Regions from separate parts of the Homo sapiens genome. Here all the other regions are linked to region 1. Evidence: fine-mapped expression QTL. A gene starts in region 1. Each other region holds a variant in brackets. All regions are shown on one strand. Distances are between the middles of the regions. Region 1 holds the start of GSR (glutathione-disulfide reductase). Region 2 overlaps GSR (glutathione-disulfide reductase). Region 3 overlaps GSR (glutathione-disulfide reductase). Region 4 overlaps UBXN8 (UBX domain protein 8).

What was found.
Region 2: its variant is fine-mapped to the expression of GSR in whole blood (TOPMed, PIP above 0.99).
Region 3: its variant is fine-mapped to the expression of GSR in whole blood (TOPMed, PIP above 0.99).
Region 4: its variant is fine-mapped to the expression of GSR in whole blood (TOPMed, PIP 0.98).

The regions. Positions count from the first base shown.
Region 1 is chr8:30,725,514-30,730,662 of GRCh38, forward strand. It overlaps GSR (glutathione-disulfide reductase), which reads right to left and starts at 2,333. Exons shown (of 13, transcript NM_000637.5): 1 at 2,017-2,333. The coding sequence starts at 2,322. It also overlaps a transcript of UBXN8 not described here. RefSeq lists enhancers at 1,231-1,918, 3,681-4,205 and silencers at 1,994-2,433, 2,504-2,593.
Region 2 is chr8:30,693,262-30,698,410 of GRCh38, forward strand. GSR (glutathione-disulfide reductase) reads right to left here. Exons shown (of 13, transcript NM_000637.5): 7 at 3,119-3,218. Among named protein-coding and RNA genes, the nearest start is that of GSR, 32 kb to the right of the region's middle. The variant A/G (reference allele first, on the strand shown) is at 2,652.
Region 3 is chr8:30,675,858-30,681,006 of GRCh38, forward strand. It overlaps GSR (glutathione-disulfide reductase), which reads right to left. Exons shown (of 13, transcript NM_000637.5): 12 at 5,047-5,149; 13 at 2,209-3,812. The coding sequence ends at 3,663. Among named protein-coding and RNA genes, the nearest start is that of GTF2E2, 20 kb to the left of the region's middle. The variant C/A (reference allele first, on the strand shown) is at 2,286.
Region 4 is chr8:30,760,439-30,765,587 of GRCh38, forward strand. UBXN8 (UBX domain protein 8) reads left to right here. Exons shown (of 8, transcript NM_005671.4): 6 at 450-491; 7 at 2,835-2,909. Among named protein-coding and RNA genes, the nearest start is that of UBXN8, 19 kb to the left of the region's middle. The variant A/G (reference allele first, on the strand shown) is at 2,335.

The DNA.
Region 1 (5,149 bases):
TGCACCACTGCACTCCAGCCTGGGTGACAGAGCAAGACTCCATATCGAAAAAAAAATAGATAAATACATTTTAAAAATAAAAAATTAGCTGGGTGTGGTGGCTCATGCTTGTAATCCAAGCACTTTGGGAGGCCAAGGTGGGTGGATTACCAGAGGTCAGGAGTTTGAGACCAGCCTGGCCAACATGGCAAAACCCCATCTCTATTAAAAGTACAAAAACTAGCCGGGCATGGTGGCATGCACCTGCATTCCCAGCTACTCGAGAGGCTGAGACGGGAGAACTGCTTGAACCTGGGAGGCAGAGGTTGCAGTGAGCCCAGATTGCACCACTGTACTCCAGCCTGGGTGACAGAGTGAGACTCCCTCTCAAAAAAAAAAAAAAAAAAAGAATTCATAACAGGAAGGTAAAGTGGGTGAACCTCTGAAGCACATTATAACATAAGTAGAGAAAGAGGAAGACAGAGAAAATGTGGAGAGCAGAACAGAAGTGAGAAGTGATCAAGTACTCTCATGAGGTGTGGGAGGGGGGCACTTAGTGGCACCCCACAATCTGCCTTCTGGAGAGACAGATTTCTAACCTTCTGTCTGGACTATGGTGTCAAAGTGCAAGTTGATAATTAACAGAGATTTTTCCTTTCTCTTCATCTCCATGTTCATCTCCAAGGCACTGAACAATGAAGTCAACCTTTTCATAACTGTCCATTTTTAGTTTCATTCATTGCACAAGTGCTTATTGAGCAAGGGATTTTAAGGTGATAAGAGACACACAAACACAGAAGCCCATCCCTGTCCTTAAAGAGCTCCCAATTTGACATAATTTAAATATTCATCTCCAAAGGAATTTAGAGAACCTATCCCAAATCCCAGGTTCCTCTTGGATACAGCATTTTAATCGTCAACACCCAAATCTTGTGATAGAAAAGGGCGGGCACACCAATAACTTGGAAACAACATTTATTTTTAGAATGAGTGCAGTGGCTCAGGCTTGTAATCCCAGCACTTTGGGAGGCTGAGGCGGGAAGATCGGTTGAGTCCAAGAGGTTGAAATCAGCAAGGGCAACATAGCGAGACCCCCATCTCTACAAAAAATAATAATAATTAACTAGGCGTGGTGATTAGCCCCCTGTAGTTCCAGCTACTCAGGAGGCCAAGGTGAGAGGATCCCTTGAGCCCGGGAGTTCGAGGCTGCAGTGAGCTATGATGGCCACTGCACTCTAGCCTAGGTGACAGGGCAAGACCCTGTCTCAAAAAACAAACACAAACAAAAACCCTTATTTTCAAAAATTATGAATTTTGTAAATCTCAGGATTTACATCCCTCTGTTTTTAGTTTTGCAATCCACATAAAACCAAGACAAAACAAAAGCTCTGAGAACTCACCTACTCAAGGTCGCCTTGGCTGCAATTCAGATCACCCGAAAATCCCAAAGCCCAGGCTGCACTTCAGACCAATTAAGTCGGGAAACATCCCAAAGCCCAAGTGCACCTCAGACCAATTAAGTCGGGAATCCAGGCACCCTCAGGTGATTCGAATGTGTAGCCAAGGTTGACAACAACCGCTATAAATCATTCTGCCCTTGAAACGGGAGAACCAGGATCTACATTTTTCAAGAACCAGGATCTATGGCACCGTCACCCTCGTCCCTACACACAGGCCACCAGCAATGTTCCCAGATGCAGTTTTGTGTTTCACGCGGTCAAGAACAGAATCCAATCCTCTCCCACTTGGACAAGTGAGGATGGAGGAAGGTTAATCTAACCCGCCCCGGCCCTGGTCAATATCGCATCCGTGCGGAAGCAGACGCTGGCTCGGCTTTGCGGGCCGCAGAGAAGCCCCCGGACGCCTCTCTCTCCTCCACCTGCTGGGTTCCTGGCTTCGGAATGGGGAGTTGCGGGGGTGGAAAAGAGGAAAGCCCAGCGCCGGGGGACAGGATCGCCATAGGAACGAGCACAGGCTGTCCCCCGAAAGACCGAGACAAAGAGGCGCCCCCCGCCCGAACAAACCGGCGGTACTCACGCAAGTGCCACCCAGCTTGTGGCTCTCCACCACGGCGGCCCTGGCACCCAGCTCGGCCGCCCTGCGCGCGCTGGCCAGCCCGCCCGAGCCGCCCCCGATCACCAGGTAGTCATAGGAGGCCACGGCGCCAGCAGCGGGCGGCGGGCCCTGCGGCTGCGGCTCCTGCCTGCAGGCCATGGCACGGGAGAGGGCGCGCGTGAGGGCCGCGGGCTCGGGCAGAAGCAGCAGGAAGCCTCGGAAGGCGCGCGCCGCCCGCCGCCAGCTCGGTCCCGCGCCGGCGCTCAGGGCTCGGGGCAGCAGGGCCATGCACGCGGAAGTGGCGCGCCAAGTGGGGCGGGCGGCCCGGGGGCGGTCCCCGGGGTAGGGGGGCGCGGGCCCCGGGCAAGCGCAGCCTCACGGTGACTAAGCATGCGCCCGCCGCTAGGCAAGACCCAGGAGGATGCCCAGAGGCGGGGCCGCCTCCCAGTTCCCCGCCCCGGTGGCGGAGCCTGAGGGGTTTCTCCGCCTCCGTTCTCACCCCGGCCCCTGGATCCCGAGCGGCGCCTGCCGCGTGTAGCCTTCTGAAGTCCGGTGGATCGAGGCGAGGAACGGTGAACGTCCTCTCGTTTCAGCTGGCTTTTCCCGAGCTGGCCCCCTGGGGAGTTGCCAGTGGCACGGCTTCTCCAGGAAGAGAAATTTGCCTCTATTCGAAGGGTTGTTTGTCCAGGTTTGTTCCAGAGACCACTTTTGTTTGTTCTTGCTTTTTCTTTGAGACTGGGTCTCACTCTCCCCCAGGCAGGGGTGCAGTGATGCGATCTCTGCTCACTGCAGCCTCCACCTACTGTGCTCAAGCAGCGATCCTCCCTCCTCAGCCTTCCCGGTAGCTGGGAACTACAGGTGCCCGCCACAGCGCCCAGCTAATTTATTTATTTATTTATTTAATTTTTTTTTTTATTTTTTTTATTATTTTTATTTTTTTTTTAGAAATAGGGTCTCACTATGTTACCAGGACTGGTAGGGAACTCTTGGCCTCAAGCGATTCTCTCACCTCGGCCTCCCAAAATGCTAGGATTATGGTATGAGGTCACCACTTCTCCTGTTGTCCTTCTCAGTTTCTCCCCAACCTCCCCTTTTCCCTAGTTTATAAGACAGGAGAAAAGGGAGAAAGCAAAAAGTTGGAAAGAAACAGAAGTAAGATAAATAGCTAGACGACCTTGGCACCACCACCTGGCCCTGGTGGCTAAGATAATAATAATATTATTAACCCCTGACCAAAACTATTGGTGTTATCTGTAAATTCCAGACATTGTATGAGAAAGCACTGTAAAACTTTTTGTTCTGTTAGCTGATGTATATAGCCCCCAGTCACGTTTCCCACGCTTACTTGATCTATTATGATTTTTTCACGTAGACCCCTTAGAGTTGTAAGCCCTTAAAAGGGCTAGGAATTTCTTTTTCGGAGAGCTCGGCTCTCAAGACGCGAGTCTGCCAACGCTCCTGGCCGAATAAAAAACCTCTTCCTGCTTTAATCTGGTGTCTGAGGAGTTTTGTCTGTGACTCATCCTGCTATATTTCTTGGTTCCCTGACTGGGAAGCGAGGTAATTGACGGACAGTCGAGGCAGCCCCTTAGGGGGCTTAGGCCTGCCCTGTGGAGCATCCCTGCGGGGAACTCCCGCCAGCTTGAGCGACGCGGATCCTGCGAGCGCTCCTGGGTAGGCAATTGCCCCGGTGGAACGCCTAGTCAGAGCAGTGCGTGGCAGGCCCCCGTGGAGTATCAACGCAGTGGCTGAACACCGGGAAGGAACAGGCACTTGGAGTCCGGACATTTGAAACTTGGTAAGACTGGTCTTCGGAACTTGCCCACTCCATTTGAGTGGAAGCATGGCCTGATCACCCACGGCGTGCCTGTACTGGCACTTTGGTTTTTGTTTTTGACTTGACTTGAATTGCTTGACACTTTGGTTTTGGTTTGACCTGGCTTGGATTACTGGATACTCTGATTTTGGTTTTGATTCTGGTTTGGTGAAAACTGAAAAAGTGCGTGTGTGCCCTTTTTACCCATTCTTTGTTTTGTGGTGTGCGTTTGGTGTGAGCTTGGTGTTTTGTCTTGAGGAAACACGGGTCAGACACAAAATAAGCCTACTCCTCTAGGAACTATGTTGAAAAATTTTAAGAAGGGATTTAATGGCGACTATGGGGTTACTATGACACCAGGGAAACTTAGAACTTTGTGTGAAATAGATTGGCCAACATTAGAAGTGGGTTGGCCATCAGAAGGAAGCCTGGACAGGTCCCTTGTTTCTAAGGTATGGCACAAGGTAACTGGTAAGTCAGGACACTCAGACCAGTTTCCATACATAGACACTTGGTTACCACAGTGGGTAAGAGGGCAGGCAGCAGCAGTGCTAGTAGCAAAGGGACAGATAGTCAAGGAAGGATCCCGCTCCACCCACCGAGGGAAATCAACTCCTGAAGTTCTGTTCGACCCAACATCAGACGATCCATTGCAGGAGATGGCAAAAGTCATCCCAGTGGTGCCCTCCCCTTACCAGGGAGAGAGGCTCCCCACTTTTGAGTCCACAGTGCTTGTGCCTCCGCAAGACAAACATATCCCTAGGCCACCCAGAGTAGACAAGAGAGGAGGTGAAGCCTCAGGAGAAACCCCTCCCTTGGCAGCTCGTTTAAGACCCAAAACGGGGATACAAATGCCCTTGAGAGAGCAGCGGTATACTGGAATAGATGAGGATGGGCACATGGCGGAGAGGCGTGTTTTTGTGTGCCAGCCCTTCACCTCTGCCGACCTTCTCAACTGGAAAAACAATACCCCGTCCTGTACTGAAAAGCCACAAGCTCTAATTGATTTGCTCCAAACTATTATCCAGACCCATAACCCCACTTGGGCTGATTGCCACCAGTTGCTCATGTTCCTCTTTAACACAGATGAAAGGCGGAGAGTGCTCCAAGCAGCAACTAAGTGGCTAGGGGAACATGCACCGGCTGATTACCAAAACCCCCAAGAGTATGTAAGGACCCAGTTACCGGGAACCGACCCCCAGTGGGACCCAAATGAAAGAGAGGATATGCAAAGGCTAAACCGATACAGGGAAGCTCTCTTAGAAGGATTAGAGGGGAGCCCAGAAGGCCACAAACGTT
Region 2 (5,149 bases), 32 kb before region 1:
CTGTCCTACAGTTAAATGGACAGCCATTGTCCACTGTCTTCTCCTCACAAAGCTTGCTTCTCTTTTCCTTAAGTCCAGGGAACAGAAATTCTCTTTCCACTTTTCGTATCTCAAGGTCTGCTTTCCCTCTGATATGATTGAAGGGAAGATTTACTAGCAAAATCTTGTCTAGCCATAAATCTCAACAGTATGGCCTTGGAGATATATCTGTGACCATCCACATGTGGAGTTCAGGTGGGAGGTCATGAGTTATTCACAGAGTAGTTCTTTTATTTTTATTTTTTTGAGAGGGAGTCTTGCTCTACCACCCAGGCTGGAGTGCAGTGGTACCATCTCAGCCCACTGCAACCTCCGCCTCCTGGATTCAAGCAATTCTCCCGCCTCATCCTCCCGAGGAGCTGGGATTACAGGCGCCCACCACCATGCCTGGCTAACTTTTCTATTTTTAGTAGAGACGGGGTTTCGCCATGTCGGCCAGGCTGGCCTCGAACTCCTGACCTCAGGTGATCCGCCCACCTAGGCCTCCCAAAGTGCTGGGATTATAGGTGTGAGCCACCATGCCCACCCACAGAGTAGCTCTAAAATGGAGTTAACACTGGGAAAAAAAGGGAGAATGAACTTGGTGCATTTGGGATGGGAGAGGGCAGGAAGCCCAAGTAGATGTGGCTCTCTGCAAAGTAGCCAATTTTACAGATGCAAGAATTACCCCCTTTATTGACAGACTGCTGCAGTTTATTTACTTATCTATATATAAATTCAAGCTAGGAACTCCTCTACCTTTCCCCATCCTTCTAATTTGCTGGATATATTCTAGCAAAATAATACTTACCTATGAAAAAATATTATTCAGGACCTCAATCTCCTGGAGCTAATTATATAACCAGTTTCAAAGCCACAGAGAAAGTTCCTTAAAGTACATACTGCCTAGGATTCTCAGAATCCCTGTCTCCCTCCATCTGCTCACATAAGAATTAGAATCATAGCATCTTGGTAGTCAGGGATCTGATAAATTCTGTCCCTGCAGAACTAGGCCCCAAAGGCATTATGTGGCTTGCCTAAGTCACAAGTTTGTTAGGGACAGTCAGCTGCCCAGGCTAGAGTGCAGTGGCACAATCTTTGCTCACTGCAGCCTTGACCTCCTGGATTCAAGTGATTCTCCTACCTCAGCCTCCCAAGTAGCTGCAACTACAGGCGTATACCACTACACCTTGCTAATTTTTTAATTTTTTGTAGTAGAGATGGGGGTCTCACTATGTTGCCCAGGTTGGTCTTGAACTCCACCTGCTACTTGGGAGGCTGAGGCAGGAGGATAGCTTGAGGCCAGGAGTTCGAGACCAGCCTGGGCAACATAGTAAGACCTCATCTCTAAAAATATATAAAAAGTAGTCAGGTGGCGCATGCCTGTAATCCCAAGCACTTTGGGAGGCCGAGGTGGGCGGATCACTTGAGCTCAGGAGTTTGAGACCAGCCTGGGCAACATGGTGAAACCTCACTGGGTGTGGTGGCATGTTCCTGTAGTCCTGGCTATTTGGGAGGCTGGGGTGGGAAGATCGCTTGAGCCCAGAAGGTTGAGGCTGCAATGAGCCATGATGTGCCACCGCACTCTAGCCTGGGCAACACAGTGAGACTCTGTCTCAAAAAAAAAAAAAAAAAAAAATTAGTCAGGGCATGGTGGCCCACACCTGTAGCCTCAGCTACTTGGAAGGCTGAGGCAGGAAAATCCTATGAGCTCAGAAGGCTGCAGTGAGCTATGATCATGCCACTGTACTGCAGACTGGGTAACATAGCAAGACTCTGTCTCTTAAAAAAAAAAAAAATTTCAAGTGTATGATCTACAAGATTCCCTTTAATGTAAGCTCGTTCGACCTGCAGCCTGCAGGCCGTGTGCGGACCAGGATGACTTTGAATGTGGCCCAACACAAATTTGTACACTTTCTTAAAATGCTATGAGATTTTTTTGCAGTTTTTTTGTTTTGTTTTGTTTTTTGTTTTGAGACAGAGTCTTGCTCTGTTGCCCAGGCTGGAGTGCAGTGGTGCAATCTTGGCTCTCTGCAACCTCTGCCTCTTGGGTTCAGGCGATTCTTATGCCTCAGCCTCCCGTGTAGCTGTGATTAGTTGCCTGCCACCATGCCTGGATAATTTTTGGATTTTTAGTAGAGATGGGGTTTCACCATGTTGGCCAGGCTGGTCTCCAACTCCTGACCTCAAGTGATCCGCCCGCCTCAGCCTCCCAAAGTGCTGGGAATTAGAGGCGTGAGCCACTGTGCCCAGTCTGCAATTTATTTTTTTATTAGCTCATCAGCTATTGTTTGTGTTAGTGTATTTTATGTGTAGTCCAAGACAATTCTACTCCTTCCAGTGTGGCTCAGGGAAGCCAAAAGATTGGACACCCCTGCTTTAATGCAAAGAATTTAGTAAATTGTTTAGAATGAGTGGTAACAATCTAACATTACTTGATCATATAAAATTGATTTCCAGAAATTAATAAATTAACCTGGCGGGGCTTGGTGGCTCACACCTGTAATCCCAGCACTTTGGGAGGTCGAGGTGGGTGGATCACCTGAGGTAGGGAGTTCGAGACCAGCCTGGCCAACATGGTGAAACCCCATCTCTACTAAAAATACAAAAATTAGTTGGGCATGGTGGTGGAT[A/G]CCTGTAATCCCAGCTACTTGGGAGGCTGAGGCATGAGACTCGCTTGAGCCCAGGAGGCAGAGGTTGCAGTGAGCCGAGATGGTGCCACTGCACTCCAGCCTGGACAAAAGAGTGAGACTCTGTCTCAAAAAATAAAAATAAAAAAATAAATTAACCTAACAGTCTGTTTAATTTAGCTAATAGTTATGTTTAGGCCCCACGTCTCCCTATGAGGGCATCTCATGACTATCTACCACTTAGTGATGAAATTACCAGCCAATTTGACCAACTCAAAATTATCATCATCAACCAGCAACTGGGAGGGATATAGGCCAAATTCAGGTAACTTGGATACAGCACCATATGAAACCAACCAAATGACCCCCACACCTGCTTTGCACCCTAGTATTTAACGACAACATAAGAAAAAATTCTTCATTTTTTAAATTAACATCAAGAAAAGCGAAAAGAAAAAGGTGGCATTTACCTTATCATGCCGTATCATCAGTGATGTCTTAGAACCCAGGGCTGACAGGATCCCTGCCATCTCCACAGCAATGTAACCTGCACCAACAATGACGCTGCGGCTGAGACGCGAGCAGAGGGTTAGTATTCTTAAATAAACTAATTTTGGAATAATTTCACGTTTACAGAAAAGTTGCAGAGATAGTACAGAGATTTCCCTTATTATACCCCTTGATCAGTTTTCCCTAAAGTTAATATTTTACTTAATTAGGATACCTTTGTCAAAATAAGAAATTGACATTGGTACATTACTAATGACTAAACCCTAGACTGCAGATTTTCACTTTTTCCCTTTTTTTTGAGACAGGGTCTCTGTCACCCAGGCTGGAGTGTAGTGGTGTGAACACGGCTCACTGCAGCCTCAACCTCCAGGACTCAAGCCATCCTCCAGCCTCAGCCTCCTGAGTAGCTGGGACTACAGACATTCATCGCCACACCCAGCTAAGTTTTATATTTTCTTTTGTAGAGACAGAGTCTCACCATGTTAGCCCAGGCTAGTCTTAGCTCCTGGGCTCAAGCAATGCTCTTACCTTGGCCTCCCAAAGTGCCGGCATTACAGGTGTAAGCTACCTTGCCTAGCCCAGTTTTTCTATTAATCTTTTTTTTTTTCTGTTCCAAGATCCAATCCTGGATACCACTGCAACTTTAAGTAGAAAATATTCCTTTGAGCCTGGGCAATAAAGTGAGACCCCATCTCTACAAAAACATAAAAGTAAGGCCAGGCACGGTGGCTCATGCCCATAATCCTAGCACTTTGGGAGGCTGAGGTGGGTGGATCACCTGGTCAGGAGTTCGAGACCAATCTGGCCAACATGGTGAACCCCGTCTCTACTAAAAATACAAAAAGTTAGCCAGGTGCAGTGGTGTGTGCCTGTAATCCCAGCTACTCGGGAGGCTGAGGCAGGAGAATCGCTTGCCCTTAGGAGGCAGAGGATGCAGTAAGCCAAGATTGCACCAATGCACTCCAGCCTGGGAAACAGAGCGAGACTCTGTCTCAAAAAAACAAAACAAACAAACAAACAAACAAACAAACAAAAAACCCCTAAAAGTAAAAATAAAAATTATCCAAGTATGATGGTCCATGTCTGTGGTCCCAGTTACTTGAGAGGCTGAGGCAGGAGGATAACTTGTGTCTGGGAGGTGGAGGCTGCAGTGAGCTATGACTATACCACTGCAGTCCAGCCTGGGTGACAGAGCAAAAGACCCTATCTCAAAAGAAAAGAAAAATCCCTAATATCCCGTCACAGAAGGGAAATGTATTTTTCATTGTTTTTAAAGCTCTTTAGCCTCATTTCTTCAGAGAGGAAAAAACTCTGTGCAGAGACAATATCTCCCTATGTTGCCCAGGCTGGTCTCGAACTCCTAGGCTCAAGTGATCCTCCGGCCTGAGCCTCCCAAGTAGCCAAGACTACCAGCATGTGCCAACACACCCAGCTAATTTTTGTATTTTTTTTGCAGAGATCGGGTTGTGCTGTGTTGCCTAGGCTGGTTTCAAACTCCTGGGCTCAAGAAATTCGCTCGCCTCAGGCCTCCCAAAGTGCTGAGATTACAGGCATAAGCCACTGTGCCTGGCTTCTGGAACTGATCTTTCAGGCGGCTGAATCCCTAAAAGATTTCTCTTTACCTCGTTGCAGCCCCAGGACTACTCATGCACAGTATTCCACAAGGTTCATGCTCCATCCAAACAGAAGCCCCCTCAGTGCAAAAACTAAATCATGCTATCTTCCCTACATTATTTATGTACTTGCCCAGTTATTACTTATTCACCAACACCGTAACAAAGATAAAGTAGACTTGAAGAATCACGTATCAATCGTAAATTCATTTTCTTGTGTTTCAGAGCCTTTTGTTGATGACATGCATAAATGTAAATATTTAAAATTGCTAATGAACAGCTATTTATAATGAAACTTCTTTGAGGGTGAGTCCGGAATGAAATTACATTATCCAAACATAATGAGTCATGACTGTATGTCTCACTACATCCTCACAT
Region 3 (5,149 bases), 50 kb before region 1:
TCAAGGACACCCCTTTCACTCTTGAAAGTGTGCCATTTTAGTCAATAAATCATATGGTCATCCTGTGCTTAATTGCTTTATTTGTATAGAAATGTTCTCATTCTAGATTATAAGATTACTTGAAAGCAAGTTACATGTCTTTCCTTCAATAAACATCTACTGTGCAAGTACAATGTGGCCCATATTTTACAACGTGCTGCCTTGTATATCTTTTTTTTTTTTTTTTTGAGACGGAGTCTCTCTCTGTCACCCAGGCTGGAGTGCAGTGGTGTGATCTTGGCTCACTGCAAGCTCCGCCTCCTGGGTTCACACCATTCTCCTGCCTCAGTCTCCCAAGTAGCTGGGACTACAGGCGCCCACCACCATGCCCGGCTAATTTTTTTGTATTTTTAGTAGAGACAGGGTTTCACCATGTTAGCCAGGATGGTCTCGATCTCATGACTTCGTGATCTGCCCACCTCGACCTCCCAAAGTGCTGGGATTGCAGGTGTGAGCCACCGCGCCCAGCATTTTTTTTTTTTTTTTTGAGATGGAGTCTCACACTATTGCCTGGGCTGGAGTGCAGTGGTGCCATCTTGGCTCACTGTGACCTGTGCCTCCTAGGTTCAAGCGATTCTCCTATCTCAGCCTCCTGAGTAGCTGGGATTACAGATGCCAGCCACCACGCCTAGCTAATTTTTGTATTTTTAGTAGAGATGGGGTTTCATCATGTTGGCCAGGCTGGTCTCGAACCCCTGACCTCAGGTGATCCACCTGTCTTGGCCTCCCAAAGTGCTGGGATTATAGGTGTGAGCTGCTATATATTTCTTGGCACTTTCAGTAATAGAGGCTGTTAAGCCACAACACCTCAAGGGCTGGGCCAGTTCAAGGACCGATGAGAATGCAGACAGGAACTCAGATAAGGGTACTGTACTTTCTTGTTGGTTTACTATGGAACCAGCACACAGGCAGGATAAATATGAGATTAAGAACACATGATGTTAAAATAGATGTGGCTACTAGGGCCTCCCATTTCCCTGACAGAGGCACACCTCAAGGCTGGGGCCTGTGCAGTGAGAAATCCACCAGCAGAATGAAGCCTAGAACCTTGGTCCACTGTCTTTTAGGCTAGGGGAAGAGGGGAGAAGTGCCTACATTAGTCCATGCCCAAGTTTGGGGATCCTATTTTCTTGTCCCACCACAATACATATAACTTCCTTGCTAATACAATATTTTTCTTTCATTGACATTGGGCCTACTTAAGAAGTCAGTGCAGGCCGGATGTGGTGGCTCACGCCTGTAATCTCAGCACTTTGGGAGGCCGAGGTGGGCAGATTACTTCTAAGGTCAGGAGTTCAAGACCAGCCTGGCCAACACGGTGAAAACCCATCTCTACTAAAAGTACAAGAATTAGCCAGGTGTGGTGGTGTGCACCTGTAGTCTCAGCTACTCAGGAGGCTGAGGCAGGAGAATCGCTTGACCCCGGGAGGCAGAGGCTGCAGTGAGCCGAGATCGTGCCACTGTACTCCAGCCTAGGCAACAGAGCCAGGCTTGGTTTCAAAAAAAAAAAAAAAAGTCAGTTCAGTAACTGGCCATCACTAACCAGAAAGACAGTCAGTAAAAGCTTAACAGAACACACAGTAAAGAATTCAGTGGGTCCAGTGCAGTGGCTCACGCCTGTAATCCCAGCACTTTGGGAGGCCAAGGCGGGCAGATCACGAGGTCAACAGATCAAGACCATCCTGGCCAACATGGTGAAACCCCATCTCTACTAAAAATACAAAAATTAGCTGGGTGTGGTGGCGCGTGCCTGTGATCCCAGCTACTCAGGAGGCTGAGGCAGGAGAACTGCTTGACCCCGGGAGGCTGCAGTGACCTGAGATCACACCACTGCACCCCAGCCTGGCGACAAAGCTAGACCCTGTCTCAAAAAAAAAAAAAAAAGTATTCAGTAACACTGGATGACTAATGAAAATCCTGGAAAAATTTAACTAGCTGGTAAAACCTAATAGAAATAAAGTGTTAAAGACCTAAGTGATTTCTAGGCTTTTCTTCCAACTCAATCATTAATCTGCTAAATGTTTCTTTTATACCTTCGATCTTTATTTTTATACGAGAACTCTCTTTTCACCCCCGTAAGCACAGGCAACTGATTCTCCAATGTGAAATATCCTTAGAAAATAAACCAATTTCCTGTGTACCAATTAAAGCTCACAGTAACAAATTTTATAAGAAGAAAAGGCTGTAATTTTATTTTCAAATTTTTGGAAGTTTTTCAGAAAAAAATAAAATGACAAGAACACATA[C/A]AAATATTGAAATTATTCATTGAACTATAAACACTTAGCAGAGGAAGGGACTTTTGATGTATTTGAATCCACCTCCTTCTGAAAGCAGGAATCACTTCTAAATGTCTCTCATATCTTTCTTCAAGGAGTGGTTTTCCAGGAGGTTCCCAGCCTCCTCAAATCTTTCCCAAGTTTGATGCACTTCACCTCATAAAAATAATATATATATATATATATATTTTTTTTTTTTTTTTTTGAGACAGGGTCTTGCTCTGTTGTCCAAGATTGAGTGCAGCAGCATGATCAGGACTCACTGCAGCCTCACCTCACCCAAGCTCAAGTGATCCTCTCACCTCAGCCTCCCAAGTAGCTGAGATTACAGATGCACATCACCACACTCGGGTAATTTTTTTTACTCTCTGTAGAGATGCAGTCTTGCTATGCTGTGCATGCTGGCCTCAAACTTGTAGGCTCAAGTAATCCTCCTGCCTCGGCCTCCCAAAGTGCTAGAATTACAGGCCTGAGCCACCGTGCCTTGCCACAAACTATTTTTAATCATTAAAAAAGAAAAAAGAAAATAAGGCAGGCCGGCTTCTCACATTACATGCTTTTAGAAAAAGGTCTCATCCTTGAAGCAGCTTTGTTATATGCAGAGCACAGTACTGGCTTCAAAAAATATATAAAGGTTCTGTGCACTGGCACTGTTTACATGTGAAGAATTGCCATCAACTTCTGTGAAAATTAGCAAGCTGGCACAGTGGCTCACGCCTGTAATCTCAGCACCTCAGGAGGCCGAGGTGGGCGGATCACCTGAAGGTGGGAGTTTGAGACCAGCCTGACCAACATGGAGAAACCCCATGTCTACTAAAAATACAAAATTAGTCAGGCATGGTGGTGCGTGCCTGTAATTCCAGCTATTCGGGAGGCTAAGGCAGGAGAATCACTTGAACCCAGGAGGCAGAGGTTGTGGTGAGCTGAAATAGCACCACCGCACTCCAGCCTGGGCAATGAGAGCAAAACTCTGTCTCAAAAAAAAAAAAAAAAAAAGTAGCAAGTTCTATTCATTCAAGTACATTAAGTTAATTGTACTTCACAAAGCTTTATATTTGGGATGAGGCTAAAACAGAAAAAAAAAACTAGCACAGAGCTGTTAATAAAAAAAAAACTTGAAAATATTAATTACTGTGAGATGTGATCAAATGAAAATCAATCCTGGATAACACTACAAATTTCTAACTCCATAAATAAGTTCTATTATGTACTAAAAATTTCCACTATCAGAAGATCCTGATTAAAATAAAGAAATACATAAAACTCAAACAGTAAGTCAATGTGATTATTTGTTTCATTTCAGAAGATCTATGGGTCCCACTGCCCGCCACACGTGTCTCCTGGTTCTCAACGAAGTGTGACCAGCTCTTCTGAAGAGGTAGGGTGAATGGCGACTGTGTTGTCAAAGTCTGCCTTCGTTGCTCCCATCTTCACTGCAACAGCAAAACCCTGCAGCATTTCATCACACCCAAGTCCCTGCATATGGATCCCAACCACCTGGGAAAAGAAGAGAAACATTTTCTTTTCTTTCTTCTTTTTTTTTTTTTTTTGAGACGGAGTTTCACTCTTGTTGCCCAGGCTGGAGTGCAATGGCATGATCTCGGCTCGCTGCAACCTCCACCTCCCGGGTTCAAGTGATTCTCCTGCCTCAGCCTCCCGAGTAGCTGGGATTACAGGCGCGCACCACCACGCCTGGCTAATTTTGTATTTTTAGCAGAGAGAGGGTTTCACCATGTTGGCCAGGCTGGTCTTGAACTCCTGGGCTCAAGTGATCCACCCACCTCAGCCTCCCAAAGTGCTGGGATTACAGGGGTGAGCCACGGTGTCTGACTGATATTGTGATCTTAATTGAACTTATAAAGAGCCTCTGGTGATGGCCAGCTCTTCATATTATTCCTCTCTATATAGCAGTTCTTAGTCTTGAGAAGAATGACAAATAATGTTTATCAACTGAATGAATGATAACTGGCATGAAGAAATAACTAAGTAGGAGCCTTCATGATTCAATATCCAGAAATCATAGGCTACTGAGGAATGTTCATGGCACCACCATGCCCGGCCAATTTTTGTATTTTTAGTAGAGATGGGGTTTCACCATGCTGCCCAAGCTACTCTCAAACTCCTGAGCTCAGGCAATCCGCCTACCTTGGCCTCCCAAAGTGTTAGGATTATAGGCGTGAGCCACAGCGCCTGGCCCTGGCCTCTCCTGTTTTTTTTTTTTTTTTTTTTTTTTTTGCTTTGAGATGGAGTCTCGCTTTGTCTCCCAGGCTGGAGGGCAGTAGCATGATCTTGGCTCACTGCAACCTCCGCCTCCCAGGTTCAAGTGATTCTCCTGCCTCAGCCTCCCGAGTAGCTGGGATTACAAGCACGCACCATCATGCCTGGCTAATTTTTGTGTTTTTAGTAGAGACAGGGTTTCACCACGTTGGTCAGGCTAGTCTCAAACTCCTGACCTCAGGTGATATGCCTGCCTCGGCCTCCCAGCGTGCTGGGATTACAGGTGTGAGCCACCACGCCTGGCATCGTCTTTATTTTTTAAAAGGAGTGGAACCTCCTTCTAGATGAAATATTATGAAGAACCCCAAAATGCAGGTAAGACAGATCAAAGTGGGCCTGTCCAGTTGAATCAGAAGGCTCAACTGCTTGGTCTCCCTCCTTTCCACCCCTGCAAAATACTGCCATCCCTGTCCATTTTGCAAGGCACTATTTAGTTTGCTGGATTTTTCCTTACCTTTTCTTCCTTGTTAGCACAGACCATTTTCATCACACATTTTGTTTTCCTTTTGGTAACTGCGTGATACATCGGGGTAAAGCTCGTTGAATAGGTCTTCACA
Region 4 (5,149 bases), 35 kb after region 1:
ATATATTTTTTTTTTTTTTTAAAGTGACAGGGTCTTGCTTTGTTGCAATGGTTGGCCTTGAACTTCTGAGCTCAAGTGATCTTCCTGCCTCAGCCTCCTGAGTTGCTGGGATTACGGACATGAGCCACTGCATCTGGCTTGCTTTTTTACATAGTGCATTTTTATATATTAGTAATATTTTGGAACATAATAGAAGCAAAATCCTTTAAGTATGTATAGATTGGGAGCTATTATCTCAAATCCTATTTTTATGATTAATTTTTAGCACACTTGCCCAAAAATGTTTATTAATTGAACTATTTTCATTATAAACTCTTTATAGATGTATGAAGAAAAGATATAAGTAAGCTTAGATGTGTGTCTAAACTCTGTATTGAGAGGAACTCTTCTCATTGACACTTTTGCTTGTTGAACATGTTTACATTCCTCTTACCAATACTTTTCTTTAGATTCCTGATTTACCTGAAGAACCTTCTCAAACAGCAGAAGAAGTAAGTCTATTTTTCTCTTCGAAAATTAAACTTATTTTCTATTTTCTTTGCTTAACATCCATTAAATATGTCTTATCTAAACTTGGGTTTAGAAAGAAGTGATAGCATAAGTGTTCATGTGATTATACTGTAACTAGGTCTTTTTTAGAACATAGAGACAGGGTCTCACTATGTTGCCTAGGCTGGCCTTGAACTCCTGGGCTCAAGTGATCCACCCGCCTCAGCCTCCTGGGTAGCTGGGTCTTACTTGGAATGTAGTGTAGTATCAAATTCCTCAACATGAGTACTATTTTGCAAGCCTGCTGTCTGCTGAGTTGTCTTTTTTTTTTTTTGAGATGAAGTCTTGCTCTTGTCACCCAGGCTAGAGTGCAATGGCATGATCTCAGCTCACTGCAGCGTCCGCCTCCTGAGTTCAAGTGATTCTCCTGCCTCAGCCTCCCAAGTAGCTGGGATTACAGGCATCTGCCACCACATCGGGCTAGTTTTTGTATTTTTAGTAGAGACGGGGTTTTACCATGTTGGCCAGGCTGGCCTGGAACTCCTGACCTCAAGTGATCTGCCTGTCTTGACCTCCCAAAGCGCTGGGATTACACCCACCCACTGCCTCAGGCATAGGACACGTGGGCTTTTCCAGAACTTTAGGTCAGAAAATGCGTTGCTTACTAAAACAGAATCAAAATAGGCATATGTCCGAGCACTTTGGGAGGCCAAGAGGGGAGGATTACTTCAGCTTAGGAATTCAAGACCAGCCTGGGCAACATAGTGAGACGCTGTCGCTACAAAAAGGAAAAAAAAAAGGAAAAAAAACTAGGCAAATGACTTCAAATTGCAGTTCTCCTTTTCAAAGGAGAAAATGAAGAGGGCGACTACTTTGTAGATGTTTTAATTTAGGGGTGGTTTGCTGTTGGGGGCTGGGCTGGGACTGATCCCCAACTGTGTCAAGCTGTCTTCTTCCCAGTTGCTGGGTCATAGTCCGTGATGCCTTCCTGTCACTGGCCACCCAACTTATAGACACTTCCTAATGTATGGGGAGCACATACGTGTCTTGAAAGCCATTAAGTCATTTGGGCAATAAATCCAGAAGGAGAACCTACTTCTTGGGGCTCGGCAACAGTTATACTCCTTGGAAACCTTTTTTTTTTTTTTTTTAAAGAGACAGGCTTTTGCTCTGTCTCATAGGCTGGAGTGTCTTGGCACGATCATAGCTGACTGCATCTTCAACCTCTCAGGCTCAAGTGATCCTCCTACCTTAGCGTCCCAAGTAACTAGGACTGCAGGCATGTGCCACCAGCCCTGACTAATTTTTAAATTAAAAAAAAATTTTTTTTGGTAAAGATTGGGTCTCAGTGTTTTGCTCAGGCTGGTCCGACTCCTGGTCTCAAGTGATCCTCTCACCTTGGCCTCCCCAAGTGGTGGGATTATAGGTGTGAGTCACTGTGCCTGATGGGAAAGTTTTTTGTTTTTGTTTTTGTTTTTGTTTTTGAGACTGAGTCTCACCGCATTGCTCAAGCTGGAGTGCAATGGCACAATCTCGGCTCTCTGAAACCTCTGCTTCCGGGTTCAAGCCATTCTCCTGCCTCAGCCTCCTGAGTAGCTAAGACCACAGGTGTACGCCACAATGCCTGGCTAATATTTGTATTTTTAGTAGAGATGGGGTTTCACCGTGTTGGCCAGGCTGGTCACGAACTCCTGACCTCAAGTGATCCGCCCACCTTGGCCCCCCAAAGTGCTGGGATTACAGGCCTGAGCCACCGCACCTGGCCTGATTGGAAATATTTTCTAACATAGCTTTCCTGAGAGGGAGGGGTGCTGCTCTAAAACCACCACTTATGCCTAATATGAT[A/G]CCCACATAACTCCCAGCACAGTTAATGATCATGTTAGTCATAAAGGGTTTCTTGACAGGTGAAAAATAAACACTAATGTGTTATCTTCTCATTTTATAATGTCTTTTTTTTTTTTAAACAGAGTCTTGCTGTGTCATCCAGGCTGGGTGCAGTGGCGTGATCACAGCTTACTGTTGCCTCAGATTCCCTGGGCTCAGGCTATTCTCCCACTTCAACCTCCCAAGTAGCTGGGACTAGAGGCGTGCACCCACATCTAGCTAATTTTTCTATTTTTTATGGCGGGGGGTGTCTCAAACTCCTGGCCTCAAGTGGTCTGCCTGTCTCAGCCTCCCAAAGTCCTGGGATTACAGGCGTGAGCCACCACCATGCCCTACCTATGTCTTTTAATAATTAGCAAAGCAGTATCTAAGTCCTTTTTAGCTGCTTAGCTGTTTTATGGAATGAAAGGAATTGCAAAGAGCAATGGATCGGAGTTCTTATGTGAATATTTCTTCCTTAGGTAGTTACTGTTGCTCTCCGATGTCCCAGTGGGAATGTCCTGAGGAGAAGGTTTTTGAAGTCCTACAGCTCACAGGTAAGTGAAGGAATTCACATTTTGAGAAATATCTTTGTTGAATATGGCAGTAGTTTATTCACATGCCGTGGGGGAAGGTGTGATCACACTGTCATCTGCATCTCCCATCAGGTATGGATAAAGGACATTTCCAGGTACTCCACGTTGCAGAAATTTGGCTAACTAGGCATGCCTGCCGGATGTCTCTGAATTGTGATCTCTGCATTCACATTTTACTCATTCTTTCCCTTTGGTGTATTTTTCCTTTGTTGTTTGCTTTCATTACATTATCATAATTTGATGGGCAAGATGCTTTTAAATCCTTAGGAAGTAGCCACTATTAACTTTAGACTTTTTTTTTTCTTTTAAAAACAATACTGTGGGCTGGGTGCAGTGGCTCATGTCTGTAATCCCAACACTTTGGGAGGCCAAGGCGGGCAGATCACTTGAGGTCAGGAGTTCGAGGCCAGCCTGGCCAACATGGTTAAACCCCATCTCTACTAAAAATAAGAAAATTAGCCGGGCATGGTGGCGGATGCCTGTAATCCCACCTACTCGGGAGGCTGAGGTGGGAGAATCACTTGAACCTGGGAGGCAGAGGTTGCAATGAGCCGAGATCATGCCACTGCACTCCAGCCTGGGTGACAGAGCAAGATCCTGTCTCAAAAATACTAAATAATAAAAACAATACTGTGGTTGTTAGTGATAATTTGGAAAACATGGAAAAGTAGAGCGAGAAAAAAATTTGATCTGTAGTCTCATGCCAAAACCAGTTACTAACATTTTGGTATATTTCCGTCTCTAAGTACATTTAAACATATAATTATGTGTGCATTAAAAATATATGTAAATAATTTTCTGTCCTGTTTGTTGTATTTAACCTTCAATGACAAGAATGCTATAAACCGTAATGGAAAATACTGGATTTGACTACATAAAAATTCCGGCCAGGTGCGGTGGCTCATGCCTGTGAGTAGCTGGGACCAGGCACACACCACCGTTCCTGGCTAATTTTTTATTTTTAGTAGAAATGGGGTTTTGCCATGTTGGCCAGGCTGGTCTCAAACTCCTGGGCTCAAGTGATCCACCCACCTTGGCCTACCCAAGTGTTGGGATTACAGGCGTGACCCACCACGACCAGCCCATTTTACTATTTATGTATGATAGTTATTTTTTATAAGGAACTTAAATCAAGGAAGAGATAAACATCTCAGTAGACTGGCAGGGAAAGAAACACATGAATATCATGATTTCCCGAAGAAGACTCAGTGATAGATAAATATATGAAAAAAATGTTTGGCCTCACATAGAATCAATGAAGTACAAATAAAATGAAACAGTATTTTCTACTTAACTAGACTGTCAAAGATTAAAAAGAAATAGTACCCAGATTTGGCAAATGCGTTGGGAAAACAGGGATTCTTAAAACTTTAATAGTTTTTTGGCCGGGTACCATGGCTCACGCCTGTAATCCCAGCACTTTGGGAGGCTGAGGCAAGCGGATCATGAGGTCAAGAGATCAAGACCATCCTGGCCAACATGGTGAAACCTTGTCTCTACTAAAAATACAAAAATTAGCCGGACGTGGTGGTGCGTGCCTGTAGTCCCAGCTACTCAGGAGGCTGAGGCAGGAGAATCGCTTGAACCCAGGAGGCAGAGGTTGCAGTGAGCCAAGATCGTGCCACTGCACTCCAGTCTGGGAGACAGCAAGACTCCATCACAAAAAACAAAACAAAACAAAACCTTTAATATTTTTTATTTTTTTAAAAATAGAACAGGTCTCACTATGCTGACCAGGCCAATCTTGAACTCCTGGGTTCAAATGATTCTCCTGCCTCATCCTTCCAAAGTGCTGGGATTACAGGTGTGAGCCACTGTGCCTGGCCATCATAACTTGTTAATGTGAATGTAAATAAGATCAGTGTTCCTGACAGATAATTTACCATTATTTTTATTTATTTTTGTAAGATTGGTTCTCACTCTGTCACCAAGGCTGAAGCACAGTGGTGCAATCACAGCTCACTGAAACCTCAACCTCCCCGGACTCAGGTGATCCTTGCACCTCACCTCCTGAGTATCTGGGATTACAGGCATGCACCACCAGGCCTGGCTAATTTTTGTATTTTTTGTAGAGACTGGGTTTCGCCATCTTACCCAGGCTGGTCTCAAATTTCTGTGCCATTATATGTTTCGGGAAAAAAAATTTTATATATATATATATGTGTGTGTGTATATATATAGTTTTGAGACCGAGTCTTGCT